Linked DNA regions of Homo sapiens. Each later gene encodes a partner of the first gene's protein in a complex. Each region holds a gene or a part of one and is shown on either strand. Other genes may lie near its edges. The genes, in order: MMP2 and TIMP2.

Evidence for each region.
Region 2: the proteins of MMP2 (region 1) and TIMP2 are in contact, whole or in part, in a crystal structure (PDB 1GXD), measured with the Homo sapiens proteins. Residues at the interface, in NP_004521.1 of Homo sapiens: Trp574, Lys576, Asn577, Lys579, Tyr581, Phe588, Arg590, Lys595, Asp599, Phe602, Lys604, Ile606, Ala607, Asp608, Ala609, Trp610, Asn611, Ala612, Asp615, Tyr636, Leu638, Leu645, Lys646, Ser647, Val648, Lys649, Phe650, Gly651, Ser652; in NP_003246.1 of Homo sapiens: Ile162, Pro163, Cys164, Tyr165, Ile166, Pro169, Leu173, Met175, Val178, Thr179, Phe191, Arg196, Asp198, Ser200, Cys201, Ala202, Trp203, Tyr204, Arg205, Ala208, Lys211, Gln212, Glu213, Phe214, Leu215, Asp216, Glu218.

The regions. Positions count from the first base shown.
Region 1 is NC_000016.10:55,482,198-55,492,964, reverse strand, and holds part of MMP2 (72 kDa type IV collagenase isoform 1 preproprotein), read right to left. Parts: intron 10,057-10,767; coding exon 9,830-10,056; intron 8,950-9,829; coding exon 8,801-8,949; intron 7,667-8,800; coding exon 7,538-7,666; intron 7,362-7,537; coding exon 7,188-7,361; intron 4,423-7,187; coding exon 4,249-4,422; intron 3,315-4,248; coding exon 3,141-3,314; intron 1,165-3,140; coding exon 1,009-1,164; intron 1-1,008.
Region 2 is NC_000017.11:78,920,837-78,932,378, forward strand, and holds the start of TIMP2 (metalloproteinase inhibitor 2 precursor), read right to left. Parts: upstream 4,552-11,542; 5' UTR 4,253-4,551; coding exon 4,123-4,252; intron 1-4,122. UniProt on the Homo sapiens protein: Complexes with metalloproteinases (such as collagenases) and irreversibly inactivates them by binding to their catalytic zinc cofactor. Known to act on MMP-1, MMP-2, MMP-3, MMP-7, MMP-8, MMP-9, MMP-10, MMP-13, MMP-14, MMP-15, MMP-16 and MMP-19.

The DNA.
Region 1 (10,767 bases):
CTTTTTACTGACATCACCCAAATCAGTCCTCTCTATAGCCCTGGGAGTGGGGTATCATGATTGCACCATTTCACAGGTGAGGAAACTGAGGCCCAGAAAAGTTGAGTGACTTGCCCAAGGATTCAAACCCAAAGCTCAGATTCTTATGCCCACAAGAGTCAGGGCGGTCAGGGGGCCGCTGGTGTGTCCAGAACTGACAGTATGGCACTTTTCATGATAAGCAATTATTTTAGAGATGAGGAAACTGAGTCCAAAGAGGTATAAAGACTTACACAATATCTTGCAGCTAGTGAAGGGCAGAGGCCACATTTGAACCCAGCACCCCTCACGGCAGACCTTGGGCTTTTTCCTGAGTCTAGCAGTCCCCAAACTTCATCACTCAAGCACCACTTTCACTATTTTGGCCTGGCTCAGATATCACCTGGACCATTAAATATTTTTTAAAAATGAACTGACTTTTTAAACTCTAGCCTCACTGTAAGAACCAACAATAAATAAATAAATAAATAAATAAATAAATAAATAAATAAATAAATAATTGGCTTAAGGCACTGGTTGTTCTGTTTCTACTACATACTAAAAATCAAAGCTTATTATGAAAACTAGAAACTTCCACCCCCGTATTGTTAAGGTCATTCCACATGATGGAAAATTCTGTCCTGTACTTGGCTATTCTCCTGGATTCTAAACTCCACTGGGTTGCTCAAACCTGTGTAACCTTGCACCAGGTGACCTTACTCACCTAGAAAATGGGAGAAACCCAGAAATGGAGCGCTAAGAGTGACATGGATATTAGCATTGTTCGGATAGGGAAGAGTTATCCAAGTATCCCCTTGGAGAGCTGCTCTGCCTTCCCAAGACCAGGTCAACACTCCCATTTCCTGCCCTCGTCTCCAGCACTCCTGGCTGGATGAGATCTTGCTGGTCCCACCCCCTGGGCCTCCATCCCAGGCTACATGACCTCCCCCCTCCTCACCCTCCACCCCCAACCCCCGCCCGGAGGTTTACCATAGAGCTCCTGAATGCCCTTGATGTCATCCTGGGACAGACGGAAGTTCTTGGTGTAGGTGTAAATGGGTGCCATCAGGGCCCCAGGGTCTTGGGAGTGCTCCAGCCCCATGGCGTGGCCAAACTCGTGGGCTGCCACGAGGAACAGGCTGTACCCTGAGGGTTGCAGGGAGGAGAGAGGGTTGAAAGACAGGAAGAGAGATGAGAGAGAAGTCAAGACCTGACCCAGTGATGCAGACTTTTGAGGACAGCCCCACAGTAAGGCTGAGAACCCTGGAAGCGGCATGTATTGATTTTTTTTTTCTTTTCCTGAGAATTCTGGGATCAATACACAATTTTGGGATTAGTGCCTATTGTTTCCAAGTGGGGTCAGCCAAAGTCTTCTTGTCTCTTTCCAAGTCAGTATCAGGACAGGTGTGCTATAAAGGAACAGAACAAGTAGTATCTGCGAATTTTCTACTTAAAACCCCATTCATTTTAAAATCCTGCTTCCTGGCTTTTTATGTCTCTCTATAAAAGATGAGCTCTACAAACCCAGCTCCTCAGCCTCTCTGAAGAGGTAAGAAGAGTGGGGATAGGCTGGCCCCATGTTGCCACCATTTCTGCCCAGGTGAAAGCAGTAAAAACCTTTCACACTTAGCGTGGTTGCACAGGCTGAGCCACAGCCAGCGAGCAAAACCTGTGTCACACCCTGTTGTGGTTAAATGCGTCCCCCCAGAAAAGATTTGCCCAAGTCTTAACCCTAGGGACCTGTGAATGTGAACTTATTTGGAAATAGGCAGGAGAATCACTTGAACCCAGGAGGCAGAGGTTGCAGTGAGCCGAGATCATGCCACTGCACTCCAGCTGGGCAAGAGCAAGACTCCGTCTCAAAAAAAAAAAAAAGGAGGAGAGGCAAGCAGAGGGGGAAGAAGGCCATCCATGTCATGACAGAGGCATAGACTGGAGTGACGCATCCTTCAGAGGGAACATGGCCTTACTGACGCCGTGATTTTAGACTTCCAGCCTCCAGAAGCATGAAAGAATACATGGGGTTTGTTTCAAGCCATCAGTTTGTGGCACTTTGTCATGGCAGCCCCAGGAGACTATAATATTCACCCTGGGTGAGCCACTGAGCTCTGGATACTTGAACCACTCAGGAAGGTGGAGAATCCCACCTTTAAGCTGGTAAAATCAGACTGTGTCCTAGCAAGGAATTTAGCAGGGGATAAGAAAACCTCCTTTGGCCAGCCTCTGTCCACTGACATCTGCCAAGTTCCATCTCATGATGATTAAAAAGAATGAAAGCAACATAAAGACAGGCTTGCCTAATTCTGACAGGCCCTGGACCTGCCCACTGACCTGGCCATTATGGGCCATCAGGGAGCTTTAAGCAACCCTGCAACCCTGGGCTCTGTAGCCTAGATTGGGCACAGGGCCCCAAGCACCCTGCTCACTGCACTGAGCACATAGTAAGGTCACAAGCTGTCTCCTGGTCACTCTCTCCCCTGAGCTTGTGAGTCCTAGGGGGCAGAGAGCTGTCCCAGTCAGCTCCATCCTCAGCACCCAGGACTGACGAGGACCCACCATTTACACCCTGGTAACAGATGGTGCTGACTGATGGGGGAGAGAGGGCTCTGGGGGCTCCCCCAGGGCTGCGTGGACCATGGTGTCAGATCAAGCATGAGGCTCTTCCTTTTTTCCTTTCTTCTACTGCCTACCAGCTCCTTGAAGGCACCTCTTTGTGCAGTGGGAATGTCTCTTAGGAGAATTGTCTCTCTGGTAATCTGTGCTCAGAATTCAGCCAATTTTGGTAGTCACAAGCCCGCCTGGAGGGTGGCTGAAGGGGAAGACAAGAGCAGTGACCCCTCAGGAAGGCCAGTTCTTACCCAGGAGGTGAGTAGCAGCATCTGGTCTACCAGGGTCTGATTTTGGAGGCTGTGCCTCCACCTGGATGGGCAGGATCTAAGCAGGGACCTTGGCTCCACCAGAGATGGGCATTGTCTCAGCCCAGGTGGGCGGGTCTGGGTAGGTGGGTGTCTGGGGGGCAGTGTCTATGCTTGAAGTGGGTGAGGTCTCAGGAAGGTTTTTGGAGCAAGTTTAGGGGCAAGGGCAATGTCCAGGGTCTCTGTCCAATGACCAGGGCCTCGTACCTTGGTCAGGGCAGAAGCCCCACTTGCGGTCATCATCGTAGTTGGCTGTGGTCGCACACCACATCTTTCCGTCACTGCGGCCGGCGCTGGTGCAGCTCTCATATTTGTTGCCCAGGAAAGTGAAGGGGAAGACACAGGGGGCACCTTCTGAGTTCCCACCAACAGTGGACATGGCTGTGGGGTTAGGGATACGGGTCAAGGCGCAGCAAAGAGTCTGAGGCTACCACCAGGAAGCAATGACATGACGCTGACCTTAATGAACCACACCTAAGTTAGACTCAGTCCCAGGCACTGTATCTTTAGACTCATCTCACCCACCCCTGACAACAGCCTTGTGCAGGAGGGACTGAATAGCACCGCGTTTCATGGATGGGAAATAGATCAGAGAGATGATGAAATTTCCCTAAGCCAACACTGCTAGGAAGTATCAGAGCTGCAATTCAAACCCAGGAAGCCAGATTCCAGAGTTCTAATGAGCCTCCCATGGAAGGGGGCAGATGGGCTAGGGGCAAAGGGAGTTGGATGAAGCTGATGGCACCAGCACATGCCCCTCAGCTGTGAGCCCCCTTGGGCAGGGCTTTGCAGAGACCAACCTCTGTGTATGCTGCACAAAGCAGGCGCTCAGTAAATTCCTGTTGGAGGAAGGGAAGAAGGAAAGGAGGGAGGGATAGAGAGGAGGGCAGGAAGGAGACAGGGAGGAAAGCACGGAGCTCTTAATAAAAAACAGACTAAAAGGTGGAGATACAGACCAGGAAAGGCAGGGAAGAGAGATTGCAGGGTCAGAGAGGAGGAGAGAGAAGTCTCTGCCAGAGAGCCTGAGAGAAAAGGGATGCAGGTCGGTCAGAGGATCCTGAGCAGGCCTGACATTTAAGTGTCACCAATTCAACTGTTGATGCCCAATGTCTGTTCTGATTTCAGTGCCCAGGCCATACCAGGTGACAAGTATCCTGACTAGCTACACGGACATCTTGGTGTGGATGTCATTCGCACAGATGTCTTAGCACCCCTGTCTTGGGGAAAGGAGGTGGGCACTCGGAGTCTTATGGGTTTTTTTTTTGTCAGACAGCAGGTGCTGGGCCCTGAGGGAGGGAGAGGGAGTGGCACCCACCGGTCTCAGGGCAGAAGCCATACTTCTTGTCGCGGTCGTAGTCCTCAGTGGTGCCGCACCAGCGGTAGCCATCCGTGCGGCCCTCAGTGGTGCAGCTGTCATAGGATGTGCCCTGGAAGCGGAATGGAAACTTGCAGGGCTGTCCTTCAGCGTTGCCGCCCATGGTGAACAGGGCTAAGGGTGGGGGAGAGAGGGAAGGATGTGAATGAGACATGCTTCCATGGGCACAGGGCTGGCTGGCTGCCCACCTGCCGGTTCACACCAGTGAAGTTGATGCATTGTTAAAATATTAAGAAAACATCTCTACTGGTTGGTAAGGAGCTGCTTCTCTGAGCTCCCAGAGAGAACCCCTGCTTCCCTGGTTATCCCAATCCCTCCCGTGGGACCTTGTGGACCACCCAACAACAAAATGATTGACACCTGGCACACAGCAAGGGCTTCTAGAACCCTGCCTCAGCCCCAAGGGCACTGTCCATTCTGCCTGGTCCACACCTGTACCATGCAAATTTCATGTAATAATGATGTATGACATGAATATATCAGTCATGGCAGGCAGGACCACGAGAATCTCTCTCCATTTGATAGGTGGAGAAATCAAGGCTAGGACAAAGATGGTTCTCAAACTGCTCATGGTCACAGAAATGAAAGAAGTGAATGAAGGTTGTAACTAAAAACTACAAAACACACTAATCTCAATCTCTCTTGCTTAGTCTGTCACTCTCATATATGTGTGTGTGCGTGCACACGCATACACAGAAAGCTTGCTTTACCTCCTGTCAACCCCAGGCCCCTTCCTGGATGGCCTTGTTGCAGTCTCTGTAGGAAGGAGAGAAAGAATGAAGAGGAGGAGGGAGGGAGAGGGAGGTGGTGCCTTCAGGTCCCTTTTACTAAACACTCTGGGCTCCTACTTTGACATCTTCAAGACAGGGGCCATAAATGGAGAGTTGGGGGAGGGAGTGGGGTTCAGAGCCTGGCCTGTCTGTCTTGGATTCTCCCCATCCTCCCCTCATCCACCCAAAGCTAAAAAATGGTGTCTCTGGAATTGCCAACCAGCAAAACCACAAGTCCATAACAAGGACCATCTGTGCACAACGGCGCCAGAGGTGACCTCACCAGCCCCCGTTAACTCCACCATGGCCGGAATGGAGCCCAGTCCCTGGCCTCCCACCACAGAACTCGAGGCCCTGTATCCTCACCACTCCCCTCTCTACCAAAAGACCTTGTCCTGCAATGCCAGAAACAATGGCACCTAGAGAAAAGGCAAGACTGAGTCCAGATACCTTAGTGGCCTCAGAGTTGAGAAAGGCAAAGCGTTAACTTCGACCAATGCCAGCCCCCTGCCTCTGACCTCTCATTTCTACCACCCAGGAAGCCCCTGTCTCCTCCCAAATTCCCCTGACAAGGATGGCAAGAATCAGACACTGACTCAGCCATCAGCAGGGGCTGAGTAACAACAATCTCTGCCTCGAGACCCAGACACGTGCGTGTTGTGCGTACTTGCATCTGGCTAAGCACAAAGTAAATGGCTAATGTCCAATGCAGGGAATAACCCTTCCCAAATTTATGAAATACAGCTGTTTCCACATCTAACTATCACCAAAGCTTTCTGTTCCTATCAGAGGGGTGACACAGGGAAGGGTTAACGCCACATGTAATCCCTACCGGGAAACGCAAGATACAAAAAATATTTTTATTTCAAAATGTCTGACTTATTAATGGTGAATGGCTTAAACTCTTACTTAATATAAAGTTTAGCTCTGGTAGTAAAAGCATAAACAGGAAGGGAATTAACTAGCTCTTTGTTTCTTTCATTCTGTCAAGATGGTTGGTGCTTAGTTTTCAGTTACAGTGGGGTTAGGGAGATTCACAGACATAAAATTACAGACAAAAAGACAGTCTTTAGTCTATGTAGACTATAGAGTCTTTGTGACATGGGAAAGAAGATAGTGTTAAAAATTTTTAGACTTTTTTCCATTTTCGCCAGGTTTTCTGGGCTTTCAATCTGCAGAATTATCAAATATGATGACTTCATAGAGTATGAAGTTACATTGTCTTTTTGTGATTTATGACTATTAAGTGTGTCAAGGATATTTTTAAAAAGGATTGAGTGTGTATGTCAATATCTGTACCCCATTTTAAAAGATTTCCCCCATGTGGCTTCAAAATCTCTGAAATGTTGCATCTCAGGCACTGACAAGCACACAAACACAAATACTGAGTCAAGCCTAAAGTCTTTATCAAGACACAGAGATGCAGACACAAGCTAGACAGGAGGCAGAAAAAGACAGTGCCCAAGAGAGGCAGATAGTATAGCCCCCGTGCCCAGACACACACACACACACACACACACACACACACACACACACACAGGCACACACACACACACACACACACGCATTAGCAGAGGCAGCATCAGGACCAAGGCAGGAGCAATAGCTGAAATTCCTCAGTTGGAGTACGCAAACCAGGTTGAGTCCAGCCCTGGTCTGAGTCCTGCCTCCCTATCACACTGCTAGGTTTCCAGCTACCAGCAAGCCTTTCCTCATGCCCTTGAAGTATCAATCTTGACTGAAGTGTAAAGACTGGTTCTAGAGAGAACCACTGGGCATTGTAATAGTTCTAAGTTCACTCCAATATATATTAGAAATAAATAATTAGCAAATCAAATCTGTGACTTCCTAAATGATTGCTAATGGTGAAACTTAAAAAAAATCAACTTGATTTAATTAGAGTACTACGTTCATCATGGTACTGGTGGGAGAGAAACAGCAATGGCTCAGATCAGGATGGGGGGGAACTGAGTGAAGGACGTTGGAGGGATGCTCATTAACTGGCAGTGGCAGCCAGTCCTGGAGAGTGTGGAGGGAAGAGCACACTGGGGAGCCCGGGAAGCTGGAGGCTTGGGGTGGAAAGTCTTGGGGACTAGAGTGGATGCTCACCTTCATGGGGACAGAAGCCGTACTTGCCATCCTTCTCAAAGTTGTAGGTGGTGGAGCACCAGAGGAAGCCATCGCTGCGGCCGGTATCAGTGCAGCTGTTGTACTCCTTGCCATTGAACAAGAAGGGGAACTTGCAGTACTCCCCATCGGCGTTCCCATACTTCACACGGACCACTAAAGAGTGACATGGAAGGGGGAGGTTGGACTTCTCCAGGCCTTCTTTGGAGACCAAGATTCTGACTCACCCAGATGTGTGACTTTCCTCCCCTCCCACCTCTCTGGTCCAAGCAAATGGAGTGGAGAGAGGACAGGAGAGAAGGTCTGGGGCATGCAGAGGGCCCCTTTCTCACCTTGGCCTTCTCCCAAGGTCCATAGCTCATCGTCATCAAAATGGGAGTCTCCCCCAACACCAGTGCCTGGGGCGAAGGCATGAGCCAGGAGTCCGTCCTTACCGTCAAAGGGGTATCCATCGCCATGCTCTGAAACACACACTGGGTCTTAGCGTCTAGCTGTGCCACCTAGACCCTGAAACCCCTCCACACCCCATCTACATGTGGAGCCTGTCAGCCCACCCAGCATCTGTCCCCTTCCCTTGTCCCAGTGGGGTTATCCAGGACTGTCAACAGGAGCTCAGTAGAGATCTGCTGACCTGGTTGTTACCATCCTATGGTCTACACTGCTCTCCCAGGTTTACATGACTCCCAGTATCCATACCCTCTACCTCCATTGTCTACTCTACCACCATGACACTATATGTACCACATACCCACATTACCACACTAGTGTCCTCACCCCATCTTCATCATCCCCAGTGTCTATGCCATCCTCCATCCTGTCAATACTGCCCTCTTAACCACAATCCTGCCTTCATGTCACACTATCACCAATATCTGCAACATGAATCCTCATGCCCACCTTGTCACCAAGGCCTGTACCACCCACCCACTTGTCTACATTGTTTCCCCTGCTCTTTACCTTCATCACTTACCACTCAGTGTCTATACCACATACCTTTATGTCTGTGCTACTGGCAGTGTTCACACCATAAACTCACATGGCCACCTGGCCCCAGGTTCTACGACCCTTCCTCTAGTGTCTACACTGCTCCACTGTTTCCAAACCACTCTCATATATCTACAGTTCCTCAGTGTCTACCAGCATCATCCAACAGAGCTTTCTGTGATTAAGAGGAATATTCTTTGTCTGTGCTGTCCAAAATCAATAGTCACTAGCCTCCTGTGTCTTTTGAGCACTTAAAATGTGCCCAGTGTGACCAGGAAACTAATTTAAAATTTTTAACTAATTTAAATTTAAACAGCCATGTATATTCTGCCTAATGGCTGCCATATTGGACAGCACAGTAGACCACTTGCTTCGGGTTTAGACGGCCTCCAGGTTATACCACAACACACCATCTGCCCCCATGTCAACGTGGCTCTCCAGTGTCCACTCCGTGTTGTGCTGCCCCCATCTAAACCACCCCCAGGGCCCACACCATCTACTGTCCTATCTAAGCCGCCCTTAGGATCCCCACGCCCCTCTAATGTCCATCTCACCCCCTCGTCTCAACACTGATCCCTGCTGGCCCCTCTTCTGCCCCATCTTCTGCCTACCCCAGCGGCCAAAGTTGATCATGATGTCTGCCTCTCCATCATGGATTCGAGAAAACCGCAGTGGGGTCACATCGCTCCAGACTTGGAAGGCACGAGCAAAGGCATCATCCACTGTCTCTGGGTCCAGATCAGGTGTGTAGCCAATGATCCTGGAGGTGGTAGAACTGCATGTGAGTGTGTATGCATGTGCATAAGTGTATGTATATGCAAGTATGTGTGTGTGCACAGATGTATGAAAAAGTTTGAGTGTGTGTGTGTATGTGAACATACAAGTATATGCACAAGCACGGGAAGGGTGCACAGGTATGTGTATGTATATGTGAGCATGTGCCTGCGTGTATGTGTGTGTAGGCTGGGCAGGGCTCACTGCCAAGGACAACCCTCCCAGAATGCCTTGAAGACCCAGGGAGTCCCAGGCCAGCCAACATTTTTAGGCCCCAGCTCAGGAGTTCCATCTGTCACTTCTGGCTGGTGGGGGAGGGCCATAAGTAGTGCATTATGGGGCACAGGGCAAAGATCCCACCATTGGAACCCAGCACCACCCATACAGAGCACAGCTCTTGGCCCAATTAGCAACCAGTTATAACCCAATTGGGCTGCTAAACCCAATTAGCTACCAATCATCACGTTCCTTCTGCCCATCCCAATGACCTCATCTAAAAACAATAACAATGACTAGCATTACTACACTCTTGCTCTGTGTCAAAAATCATAGAAGCCGTTTGTATTAGTTCAGCCTAGCTTAGTTCCCCAACATACCATATAAGGGCATTTTTTAAGCCCCATTTTGTAGATTGGAAAGCCAACATTCACAGCACTGAAAAGTAACCCAATGTCTCATGGCCAGCAAGTATGAAACTCAAGTCTGTCTGACTTCATTTTCTAAGAACTGTGTATTGAAACTCCCTAAGATGTCAAGCCTTCACAAAAGACACCTCATGGATCCCCTGAGTGGAGAGAATGCATGGGTCAAGGAGACTCGTGTCCCTCAGCCCCATGGCCCTGCCTCCCCAAGCCCTGCCCCGGCACCTGTATGTGATCTGGTTCTTGTCCCACTTGGGCTTGCGAGGGAAGAAGTTGTAGTTGGCCACATCTGGGTTGCCGCAGCGTGGCTTCCGCATGGTCTCGATGGTATTCTGGTCAAGATCACCTGTCTGGGGCAGTCCAAAGAACTTCTGCATCTTCTTTAGTGTGTCCTTCAGCACAAACAGGTTGCAGCTCTCCTTGGGGCAGCCATAGAAGGTGTTCAGGTATTGCTGAAAGAAATGCACACCCCCAAGGCAATTAGCCACATTAGGATGGCACAGTACTGACCAAAGCAGGCTGTAGCAATCAGCCCCCCAACCCAGTGCCATAGTCCAGACAGGAAATAAGCCAGGGGTCCCAGAGCACTGGGTGGAGTACTGGGTTCCCAAACCAGCACGGTCACCCATTAGTTGAGCGACAGGACATACAGCTATAGAGAGCATGGCTACCACTTGTTGGTGCTGGGTGCTGACTATATGTCCAGGCACTAAAGTCAGAATATGTTAACTCATTTAATGCTCAAAACTCTGTAATGTAGATATACTAACCCTATTATACAGAGGAGGAAACTGAAGCACAGAGAGGTTAAGAAACTTGCTTACGATCACACAGTTCACAAATGGTAGATCTGGATTTGGGACAAAGCAATCTGGCTCCAGAGGCTGTGATATGGAATCATTATACTCCAGCATCCTTCCTTTACCTCTATCAACTCATTTATCTACCTTGCGGCTGGTGACTTGGGGACTTTTTTCCTCCTGTTTTCTTCTAAAGAGATTCAAGGACTATGTGCATGGGCTCTGGCAGTAGACAGACCTGGGTTTAAATCCTGAATCAGCCATTTGCAAAAAGAAAGTAGTCCTGTCCTTCATGAGTCATACAACTGGCCCTGCCCAAACTGAGGCCCAAACTGAGCAGGTCCCTGCAGAGGTTCAGGGAGC
Region 2 (11,542 bases), on another chromosome or scaffold:
ACACCGCCTGGTGCCAAGATGTACCACCCCCTGCATCCCCCACCACAGGGACAATGTCTTGCTTCTCCCTTACATCCCCGGGGGCAGAGGCAGCCACTCCATAATTGCTTGTTGAAACACAGACAAGCCCAATATGAAAATCAAGATGAACAAAACTGACAATACAGATCGATCACATACTTCGCACAACGAGTTGCCAACAGTTTCTTTAAAAAGCGCCACGCCGCCCCCTCGCATGGAAGGCCTGACCCAGCTCACATGAATCTGATGCTGTGTTGCTTTTCCTGAGCACGTGTCCTGAAGACAGAGCCATTTTTGACTGCGTGCTGTGTGTTTTCTGGGGTGGCCCCTACTATCTGTCTGGTCCCTGTCACTGTGTCCCCCAGGAACCAGGTCACCCTTGGCTGTTCACCCCAGAAAATAGCAGTTGTTCCCCCTCTTGGTTGTGGACCCCTCTCTAGCTGGAGCTGGAGCTCCTCGGGGGATTTGCAGAGGACAGTTTCTGGAGGTGGGAACATGTGAGGAAGATGTCATCGCAGAGGTCTTCTAGGATAATGTGTGGCCTTAGGTACTGCCACCCAAGCCAGAGGAGAGGTTTTATTCTCTGCATCCAGAGAGCTCCTGGCTTTACCCTTGAGTCCAGAAACGGGCCCAAGCAGCCCGAGTCTGCCAAGTAGCTCAGCTGGCTAAGTGGCTCCAGGCATGGGACTGCCTGAATGGTGAGCCCAAAGCTAATTTCCAGCCAGATCCCTGTAGCTGTGCAGGCTGGCAGTAGATGTGAAGGATTTCACTGGGTGAGAGGGAGCCGGGCCAGCAGCGCATTTGAACAGTACTGTAACTGAGACACAAAATGCTTCCCGTTTGTGCTGGCCTTGCTGGAAAGGACAAGGACCTGGGGCCTTCCAGGAAGAAATCAGGTCACCTCTTACCATCCCTTATCCTAAACATCACCACCTCATCATGAATTATCTTTGCCGACCACAGTTCCGGTCCTACCAACTGCAAGAGCTGCTAGGGAGATACCTCCCAGAAATCCTCAGCCGGGCAGACAGAAATCTGACTGTTTCTTAAGCCAATTGCCTCTTGTAGACACCAAGCCATTTAACAAGGCTGCATGCAGCCAAGAGTAAAAGGAGCCAGCTTGCCACATAACAAGCCAGCCTTTATTAACCTCCACTGTACCCCCTTTCTGAGACCCCTGGGTCACAGCCCTGGTTAAATCACCTGTGGGCCTTTTAAAACTGCAAAAGCCGAAGTCTGAGCAAGACCCTCTGTATCTGCAAAGGGACCTAGACCTGAGCAATCTTTAAGAATCTTCCAGGCAATTCTGCTCTGAGCCAGAATGGGGAACCATTGCTGAGAAAGTCACAAACCTGCATCGCTTCGAGGAGAATCGAACACTGGAGAATAGACAGGCCGCTGTCGTCCCTGTGGGATTTGTTCCGGGACCCTACCCTGGGATGTCCTGGGTTGTTTATCCCAAGTTGGTTGAGCACGGAAAGGGTGACTGGGAATAAGAGAAGGCAGCCTGGTGTATGGGCTGAATTACGTCCCCCCTCAAATGCACATCTAGTCAGATCCTATGAATATGACCTTATTTGGAAATAGAGTATTTGTTGATCTATCAAGATGAAGTCATACTGGATTAGGGTGGGCCCTAAATCCAATGGCTGCTGTCCTTAGAAGAACAGGGCAATTTGGCCGGGCGCGGTGGCTCACGCCTATAATCCCAGCACTTTGGGAGGCTGAGGCAGGCGGATCACCTGAGGCCAGGAGTTCGAGACCAGCCTGGCCAACATGGCGAATTCCTGTCTCTACTAAAAATACAAAAAATTAGCCGGGTGTGGTGGCAGGTGCCTGTAACCCCAGCTACTTGGGAGGCTGAGGCAGGAGAATTGCTCGAACCCAGGAGGCGGAGGCTGCAGCGAGCCGAGATTGCGCCATTGCACTCCAGCCTGCTCTCCAAAAAAAAAGAACAGGGAAATTTGGACACAGAGACACACGAGAGAAGGCCATGTGAAGACAGGCGGAAATGGAAGTGATGTGTTCCTTGAAAATGGAACCAAGCAACATCAAGGAGAGAGGCCTGGAAGAGATTCTCCCTCACAGCCCCCAGAAGGAACTGGCTCTGTGGACACCTTTTCAGACTTCTGGCCTCCTGAGCTACAGAGAATCGATTCCTGTTCTTTTAAGCCCTCCCATTTGTGGTAGTTTGTCACAGCGGCCACAGGAAGCGAATGCCCTGAGCTCTGCAGTGCAACTCTGGCATCTGACTGGGCCTCTGAGCCGGGATGGGGTGAAAAGTTTTAGCTACAGGATGATTTTGATGCAAAGATTTAGACACAAATGCCAGGCAACCCAGAAGAGGAGAGTGCTGCGCTGAGCATGAAGGAGGCGGGAGGCACGCACTGCAGCCCTCCACCCTCTGCCATCCTGGATCCACACCCCACGCAGAAACAGCTCCCAGCTCAGTGGCCGCCTTAACTTATGCCAAGCAAGGACAGAGTGGCTGCCTGGACATTCTCCCACACAGCTGAGGAGTGTGTGTGTGGGGCGGGGTGGGGGGGGGGGCGGGAGGGGGAGGGGTCCCAAGGCCCAACTCCTACAAATCCAACTCCCAGGTCCTTTTATCCACAGCCTCCTTCTGGGCCTTGGCTACATCCTGCCCCAGCACGTGCTGGTGAGCCAAGGAGCCTGGACAGGCCTGCACTCCTCGTGGACCCCCAGAGAAAGGCCCATTATGGCTCCCTCATCAAAGGAACCTCTCCTTCACCCACAAATCTTGCTGAGCACCAAGGCTAAACTGGAGAAAAGACCTCATTTCCCCCAAACTGGGTTTTGTGGAAACTGACACAGGCACACACCAAGCCTTCCGCCCAGGTGGCCTGAGCCACCTGAGACCTGTGATCTCAATAGATTGGTGCAACTGAAAACTTCCCCAGCTGGGCACGCAGCTCCTAGGGCTAACCGGGGTGGGGCAAGAAGCCGTGGGCGGGGTATGGGAAGGGCGTGGCTGACAGCAGGAGAAACAGAAAGTCCCACCTCCACTCTGGGCAGGTGAGGGGGCCCCCGCCTTGCTCCATCTGCCCTGGACAGGTCACTCGACTGAGACTCAGACATAAGAAGGAAGGAGGGCAGGGGGCTCCGAGACCACCTGCCGTGTAGCCAGACTTGCCCCAGGAAAACCATGCTGACCAGCACCAGGGCTGCAGAGGCTTGAGGTGCAGGACCAGGGTGGAAACTTCGAGCCAGCGGGTTCCTCCCATTTCTGCTGGTCCTCCCCCTCCATGGATCAGAACAAATAACTGGGCCCCTCCTGCCTCCCTCCATGGCGCCTGTCTTTTGGGGGCTAGGAGTCCGGAGGTCATGGGTATTTGCTGGGGAATCTGAGCAGCAGCACAGTCCCACGTGCCGGGTCCGGTCACCAAAGTCTCCAGCTTTTGTGGACGTCCCGAAAAAGCGGAACATTCGGGGGTCCCGGTCCCTGCCCAGCCAGTTTGCAGGGCCTCCTGGGCAGGGCGCAAGCAAGGAGCCACGCCAGGAGACGCCACCGGCTTTTTCACCTGCCCCTCTGGGCCTGTGGAACCTGCCTCGGGTAGGGCGGGCTTCCATCCCACCCTGGCTTGATCGGGGAGCCCCCAAATGGGGCTGGTGGGAGAAGCCCCAGCAGAGAAGCCCTTCCCCACCCAGCCCCAAGCCCAGAGAAGCCCAACTCCCACCTTATCTGCGAAAGTTTCTTCCTGGGGTCCCCAGTCCTCCAGCCCCCCGCCCCCACGCCGTGTCCCCCACGCTCCCCGCCCCCAGCGCTGGCATCCCAGGGCGCGCCGCCTGCCAAAAGCCAAACTGGCTCCCTTTCCTGGGGCTGGAGCTGCGGCGGAATTTCGGTGGAATTTTGAGGTTGAGACGCATCTCGGCAAAGAGAGGGAAAGAAAGGGAGAGGAGGGAGGGGGGAAAGAAAGTCGGCTCTGGGCGTCCACTTGCAGGATTCGAGAAGGCGCCGAGGGACCAGGAGGCGGGCGCTGGGGTCCCTCGGCCAGCGGCGGGCGGGCGGGGCGTCTGCGAACCCTCGGGGTCGCGGGGGAGGTGGGGCCCCGCGCGGGGGCTGGGGTCGCCGCTCCTTACCTACATCTGCATTGCAAAACGCCTGTTGCGGGTGCACCGGGGAGCAGCTGCAGGCGTCGGCCGGGCGAAGCAGCGTCGCCAGCAGCAGGAGGCCGAGCGCCAGCCGCAGGGTGCGGGCCGCGGCGCCCATGGCGGGCCGGGGGGCTGGGCGGGCGGGGGCCGCCGCTGGGGGGTCCGGGCGCTGCTCGCGGCGGCGGGCTGGGGGCGCGGGCGGGGGCTGAGCCGGGGCCGAGGCGGGCCCCTCCCGCGCGGCTCACCCTCCTCACCTGCCCCGCTCGGCCGCGCAAACTTTCTCTCCTCTTTGTCTCGGGGGCGCGAGGGGAGGGGCGCGGGGCGCAATTCGCCGGGCGGGGCGGCGGGGTGGGGGGCGGCGGGCGAGCGGCGCTGCGGTTCTCGGCGGCCGCGCTGCCTTCTACGGATGTGTTTGCTGCGGGCTTGGGCCGGGCCGCAGTTTTATTGCGCTCGGAGGATTTTCTGCTCCTCCTCCCGGTGGCTGGCGGCCAATGCAGGCTCTGGGCGCTCCCAGCAGCCCCCTCCTCCCCCTCCGCCCGCGCCTCCCCCCAGCCCGCGCTTTTGTTGTGCCCGGCCTGGCACGTCGGGGGCTTCCCGCACCACCTGGCGCCCGCGACCCGCACCCGCGCGGGGGTCCCCGGACGCCCCCAGCCCCCCGACCCCGGTCCCCGCTGCGTGGCCTTCTGCGCCCGGGGTCCCTGACTCAGCGCGGGGGACTCGCGCCCCGTTCTTCCAGGACACCAGGCGACCCACCCGCTACCCTTTCCCCTTCAGCTCGACTCTGGAGGGCTACGCTGCTCCGTCCCCCGCCACCCCGGGGTCCCTTCGAGCCCAGCCTCGGGGCGAGCCAAGGGGTGTCCTTTGGAGCAGGGGCCGTTCCCTGTCGCCACCTCCCCGTTTCTGTGGGCGGGTGGCCTATTGAGAAACTGACAGGATCCCTTTTTCAAATGGAGGCCTTAGAATTTTAAGTGCGCCTGGCCAGTTTAGTTGGGGGGTGGGGGGTGTGGTTACTGTGAACAAAACAGGATTTTATATAAACTGGCCATATTTTTGACCAGCCAACAAGAGACGGGGGTGGGCCCAGGCGCCCAGGAGCCAGTAGGATCGCAGCAGAGGCATTGGCTGGGTTCCGCTCACAGTTTCCTCTCTTAGTCCACAAATGTGGGAGCCGAAGGACTTTTCCCAAAACAGTTTTGTGTTCCAGGAAAGACCCAGGCATATGAAGGGATGAACATGTGTAGGGTGGTGAGGCGGGCTTCCTGGCTGTGAACCTGCCTGTGCCCGGCTGTGGGCACCCACCCTGTACATTTGGTGTGTGCCCCGTGGGGCTCCATGGACACTGCTGCACTCAGGTCAGCACTCCAGCCCTCAGGTCAGCATTCCAGAGTGTTTGCAGTCCAGCTAGGGAGAGGGAAGCCCAGGAAAATGACACAGGAAGAATCAGGGCGGGCACGGTGGCTTGCGCCTGTAATCCCAGCACTTTGGGAGGCCGAGACAGGAGGATCACTTGAGGCCAGGAGTTTGAGACCAGCCTGGCTAGCATTTAGTAGAGACAGTGAAACCCCGTCTCTACTAAAAATACAAAAAATTAGCCGGGCTTGGTGGTGGGCGCCTGTAGTCCCAGCTACTCGGGAGGCTGAGGCAGGAGAATGGCATGAACCCAGGAGGCGGAGCTTGCAGTGAGCCGAGATCATGCCACTGCACTCCAGCCTGGGGGACAGAGCGAGACTCCATCTCAAAAGAAAAAAAAAAAAAAAAAAAGCCCGGGTGCAGTGGCTCATGCCTGTAATCCCAGCACTTTGGGAGGCTGAGGTGGGCGAATCACGAGGTCAGGAGTTCGAGACCAGCCTGGCGGCTAACACGGTGAAACCCCGTCTCTATTAAAAACACAAGAAATTAGCCGGGCGTGGTGGCGCGCGCCTGTAGTCCCAGCTACTCAGGAGGCTGAGGCAGGAGAATCGCTTGAACCCGAGAGGCGGAGGTTGCAGTGAGCCGAGATTGCGCCACTGCACTCCAGCCTGGGCGACAGAGAAAGACTCTTGTTTTTTTTTGTTTTTTTTTTTTTTTTTTTTAAAAAGAATTGCCCACTAAATTGTGCGGTGCTGACTTGAGGTATGAAACTTTGGAAAATAGTGAAAGAATGGAAAAACAGCTTCTTTCTGTTTGTGTATGTTTTGTAACAGACAGTTCTGAGAAAAGTTAAATAAGCAATGCCGTTATTTTTAGCACCCTGACAAATCCAAAGTCACTTTTTTGGTTTTTGTTAGCGTGAAATAGAGTTGGGTCGTTCACAAAATGATGTTTGAAGCTAACGTTTAAAAGTACAGTTAATTCAGAAAATTGTTATGTGCTGGCTGCCTTCAGCCATTTCATCGTTTTCTTTCCTTCTTTTTGGTTACAGGGGGAACAAAATGCTGTTGAACTTGTGTTTCAATTTGTCAGTTCATGATAGAAACAGGTAGCATAGGGGCTCTCGGTCTTTTAGACAAGCTCTACATATAAGTGATCAGGTACATGTTAGGGTGATAAATACCTTAGAGCAGTTGTGGTGCTGACAGCCAAGGGGGTGGGGCCAATGTGGGATGTACCTGGGAGGAAAGGGGGGCCTGGGCTCCAGGGTTGGGGGGCGTGAGACTGGAACTTCCAACCCAAGGCCTCGCACCTGTATCCTGGACTGCCCTCCCCGAAGTCATCCCCACCAGCACACAAACAGGCTGGAATTGCTCCCAGGAAAAGTGAAGCAGAAATCTTGCCAGGTGCAGTGGCTCACGCTTGTAATCCCAACACTTTGGGAAACTAAGGTGGGAGGATCACTTGAGGCCAGGAGTTTGAGACCAGCCTGAGGAACATACTGAGACCCCATCTCTACAAAAAAAAAATTAGCTGGGCGTGATGGCTCACACTTGTAGTCCCAGCTACAGGGAAGCTGCGGTGGGAGGATCGCTTGAGCCTGGGGAAGTTGAGTCTGCAGTGAGCCGAGATCACACCACTGCACTCCAGCCTTGGTGACAGAGTGAGACCCTGTCTCAAAAAAAAAAAAAAAAATCTCTCCCCTCAATTCCCCCACCAGAGAGTACTCTACTTTTCTGTTCCCTCTACCATTATCTCCTCCAAACAGGTCTCTAAACCAGAAGTTTCCAGCTTTCTTTTCCTCCCTTTTCTCTTGGTTCTCTCTCTCTCCCTCCTCCCTCCATCCATCAACAAATACTCATTTGAGTATCTGCTGTAGCCTGGACACCGTCCTAAGAGTGAGACATTCAGCGTCTACAGAACAGAGGAACATCCCTGGAACAGCAGGTGGAAACACGCAAGGCCCCAAGGTTGGACGATGCTGGACCTGGTGGAGCCCATGGTGTGGCGAGGAGTGAGAGGAAGGAGGGCTGAGGCAGGAGGCCAGGAGCAGGGGCTGGGAGGGGACACGGCGGAGGGCAGCCAGGCTACCGGGAGGATGTGCATTTTGTTCTGAGTGAGGTGGGAGCCTTTGGAGGGTTCTGAGCAGAGGGGCAGGATCGGACGCATCCCCTGGAAGGATGGGACTCTGGTGGGTGGCCTGGGTGGGGGCAGGGAGCCCAGTGAAAGGGCAGGTGCTGGAGATGCAGAGACTCCAGAGTCACAAAACCCCTTTCTGGTGCAGTGCCGTGAATGGCTGACCTGCGGCTGCAAAGTCAGATGAAGAGGGGACTGAGGTCTGAGGGCCCAAATGACTCTCCCAAGGGCACAGCAGGGAGGGGAGAGGACAGTCCCAGCAGCCAGGCCTCCCTCGCAGCCCACAGCCCCCAGCTTGCTGACCCAGTCATCTCCCTGCTGCTTGGGGCCCTCAGGGTCTTGGCTCCTGAGCCAGCTTCTGTCTCATTAACCACCCTCCACCTTCTCTTCCAGTTAGGGTCCTCACACTTCAAAATCAAGGAAACTGAGGCCTCAGACCAGGAACCTACTGAAGACAGGGAGTAGACTGGAATCTGGCTCATGGCAGCACAAACCCACTTTTTCTTTCTTTTTTCTTTTTTTTCTTTGTTTGAGAGCCGGGGTCTCACTCTGTCACCCAGCCTGGAGTGCAGTGGCTTGATCTCAGCTCACTGCAACCTCTGCCTCCCGGGCTCCAGTGATCCTCCCACCTCAGCCTCCTTTGTAGCTGGGACCACAGGTATGCGCCACCACACCTGGCTATTTTTTGTATTTTTTGTAGAGACACAGCTTCTGCAAGCTGCTCCTTCTCCTTGTCCTTCTCTGTGCTTTGTGGCCAAGAGGGCTTGACCTTGCAAGCAAACTTGAACATGGGGAGGGGGCTGCCACCCATAAGGGAAGTGACAGGGTCCGCATGCCCCATGCCCAGGGCAAGAGAGGAAGGAGGAAGGCAGACCCCGGGCTGGGAGCTCCCTCCACTGCTTCACTGCTTTTTTTTTGAGACAGAGTTTTACTCTGTCTCCCGCTGGAGTGCAATGGCACCATCTCGGCTCACTGCAACCTCTGCCTCCTGAGCTCAAGCAATTCTCATGTCTCAGCCTCCTGAGTAGCTGGGATTACAGGTGCCCACCATCACACCCGGCTAATTTTTGTATTTTAAGTAGAGACAGGGTTTCACCATGTTGCCCAGGCTGGTCTGGAACTCCTGAGCTCAGGTGATCCGCCCGCCTCGGCCTCCCACAGTGCTGGGATTACAGGCGTGAGCCACCGCGCCCAACCCATGGCTTCACTCCTAACCAGCCCCCTTCACTTCTCATCTTGATATTGGTGGGTGGACTACCATAGGGACCATAAGCGACACCCAGCCCAGATGCAGCCTGGGGGACCCTGGCTTGGATCAGCTTAAGAGCAGAGGCTCTCAGCCTCTCAGGACAGACAGGAGCACGAGGGAGCCCTGTGAAGTATGGGGGTGATTTCAGGGCCCTCAGACCACGCTCCAGGGGCCACCGCTTCCCACGAGGAACATCGTCTTGCTCCCCCACCCCCTCAAAGAGACCTTCCTGGCAGAGAGCACAGCAGAGCTGTCAGGCGTGTGTGCACCCTCGCCTGAACACACCAGGCGAACACCTCCCAGGCTGGACCTGATGAATCCTGTCCGGGGCCGGAGGAAGTGCCAAGGCCTCCTCCCTGTCGCTCCCGTCTCAGGCCACCAGGCAGGACGCCCTCCCTGCTGCGCCGGGCTGGCGGGAGGATGCTGCTCTTCTCGGTGGCCTCGCCCTCCCAGTCTGGATGAGAGCCATCTTCCCCTGAGCAGGTCACGTTCTCTCTGTGGAGACAGCTTGAACGGACCCGAAGCCCCCACGTTCTTTCTGGCAGGTTCCTAGAGAGCCAGATGTTCTCATCCAGAGACAGCATGGACGTTGGCCCCACACACCCGGGAAATTGACCCCCTGCCGATGGCTGGAACTCCGGCCCTCAGGGGAGTGTCCAGGGCAGTCTCAGGGGCAGGGAGCCGGCAGCTGTAGAGGAAGGTGGGGACCGTGTCTGAGTCTGGCTGTCTGGGAGGTGACACTTCAGTCAGGTGACACGTGGCTGTCAAGAGTCTGAGGCCCGGCTGGATGGGCAGGCAGCCCATCTGTGCCTCCCCATCCAGCCGGGTCTCAGACTCTTGGTCACAATGGGCACCCAGCCCACGTGTCCGTCCCCAACATCCACTGGTGGGGCTGTTCACCACAGGACATCCTGAAGATGACAAGAAGGTGAGTCAAGAGTGATGGCTGGGCGTGGTGGCTCACGCCTGTAATCCTAACACTTTGGGAGGCCGAGGTGGGCAGATCACTTGAGGTCAGGAGTTTGAGACCAGCCTGGCCAACATGGTGACACCCCATCTTTACTAAAAATATAAAAATTAGCCGGAATTCACTTGAACCAGGGAGGCAGAGGTTGCAGTGAGCCAAGATCCTGCCACTGCACTCCAGCCTGGTCAACAGAGCAAGACTCAATCTCAAAAAAAAAAAATAGAGTGACTGGGACCCACTGTGCTTGAGACAAGATACACAGGCAGCATGAGCGGCTCATCGTGTTCTATGGTGGACGTGCTGAAGGGCATTTCAACATGGATTTCATTAGCCATCTTCTTTAGGGGCCGGGCTTCTCCGCCTTGGCACAGTTGACATTTGGGCCAGATCCCTCTTTGTGGGGGGCTGTCATGGGCACTGTAGGGTGTTCAGCACCATCCCTGGCCGGACCCACTGGATGCCAGCACCCTCTCCAATTGCAACCATCAAAAATGTCTCAAGACATTGCAAAACGGTCCTGGTTGGAAACCACTAACAAACCAATAAAAGTCTTTGGTCCTGAGCAAAGCAAGGTGCAGAGACATAGGAACAAACAGGTTCTATAGAGAACAAGAATGCAGATGGGAGAGTGAAGGTCCCCACAGCCTGGAGACCAAGACATGCACCATGCTGCCGACACCGATTGTCAGGGGAGAGAGGCCAGGCACAGAATAGAATTTTTTTTTTCTTTTTTGAGACAGAGTCTCGCTCTGTCGCCTAAGCTGGAGTACAGTGGCACAATCTTAGCTCACTGCAACCTCCACCTCCCGGGTTCAAGCAATTCTCCTGCCTCGCCTTCCAAGTAGCTGGTATTAGAGGTTCCCACCACCACGCCCGGCTAATTTTTGTGTTTTTAGTGGTGACGGGGTTTTACCATGCTGGTTGGGCTGATCTCGAACTCCTACCTCAAGTGATCTGCCTGCCTCGGCCTCCCTAAATGCTGGGCTTACAGGCATGAGCCACCGCACCTGGCCGAAAAAGATTTTTTATAAGTGTCCATGGTATGGACACAGTGTCTTGCACCTGTAATCTCAGAACTTTGGGAGGCTGAGGCAGGAGGATCACCTGACACCAGGAGTTTGAGACCAGCCTGGGCAACACAGTGAGACCCCATCTCGACAAAGAATTAAAGAAATTAGGTGGTCAAGGCCAGGTGCAGTGGCTCATGCCTGTAATCCCAGCACTTTGGGAGGCCAAGGAAGCTGGATCACTTGAGGCCAGGAGTTCCAGAGCAGCCTGGCCAACATAGCGAAATCCTGTCTCTACTAAAAATACAAAAAATTAGCTGGGCATGGTAGCATGCCTGTAGTCCCAGCTACCCGGGAGGCTGAGGCACAAGAATTACTTGAACCCAGGAGGCTGAGTTTGCAGTGAGCCGAGATCGTGCCTGTACACTCCAGCCTGGGCGACAGAGCGATACTCTGCCAAAAAAGAAAAGGAAAAGAAAAAGAAAGAAAGAAATTAGCTGTGCATGGTGGCATGTGCCTGTAGTCTCAGCTTTTTGGGAGGCTGAGGCAGGAGGATCACTTGAACCCAAGAGTTCAAGGCTTTAGTGAGCTCTGATTGGGTCACTGCACTCCAGCCTGGGCAACAGAACAAGAGCCTGACTCTTAAAAAAAAAATTTCCATAATAAACAGCATGTATAATACTTCATATATGTGAAGTC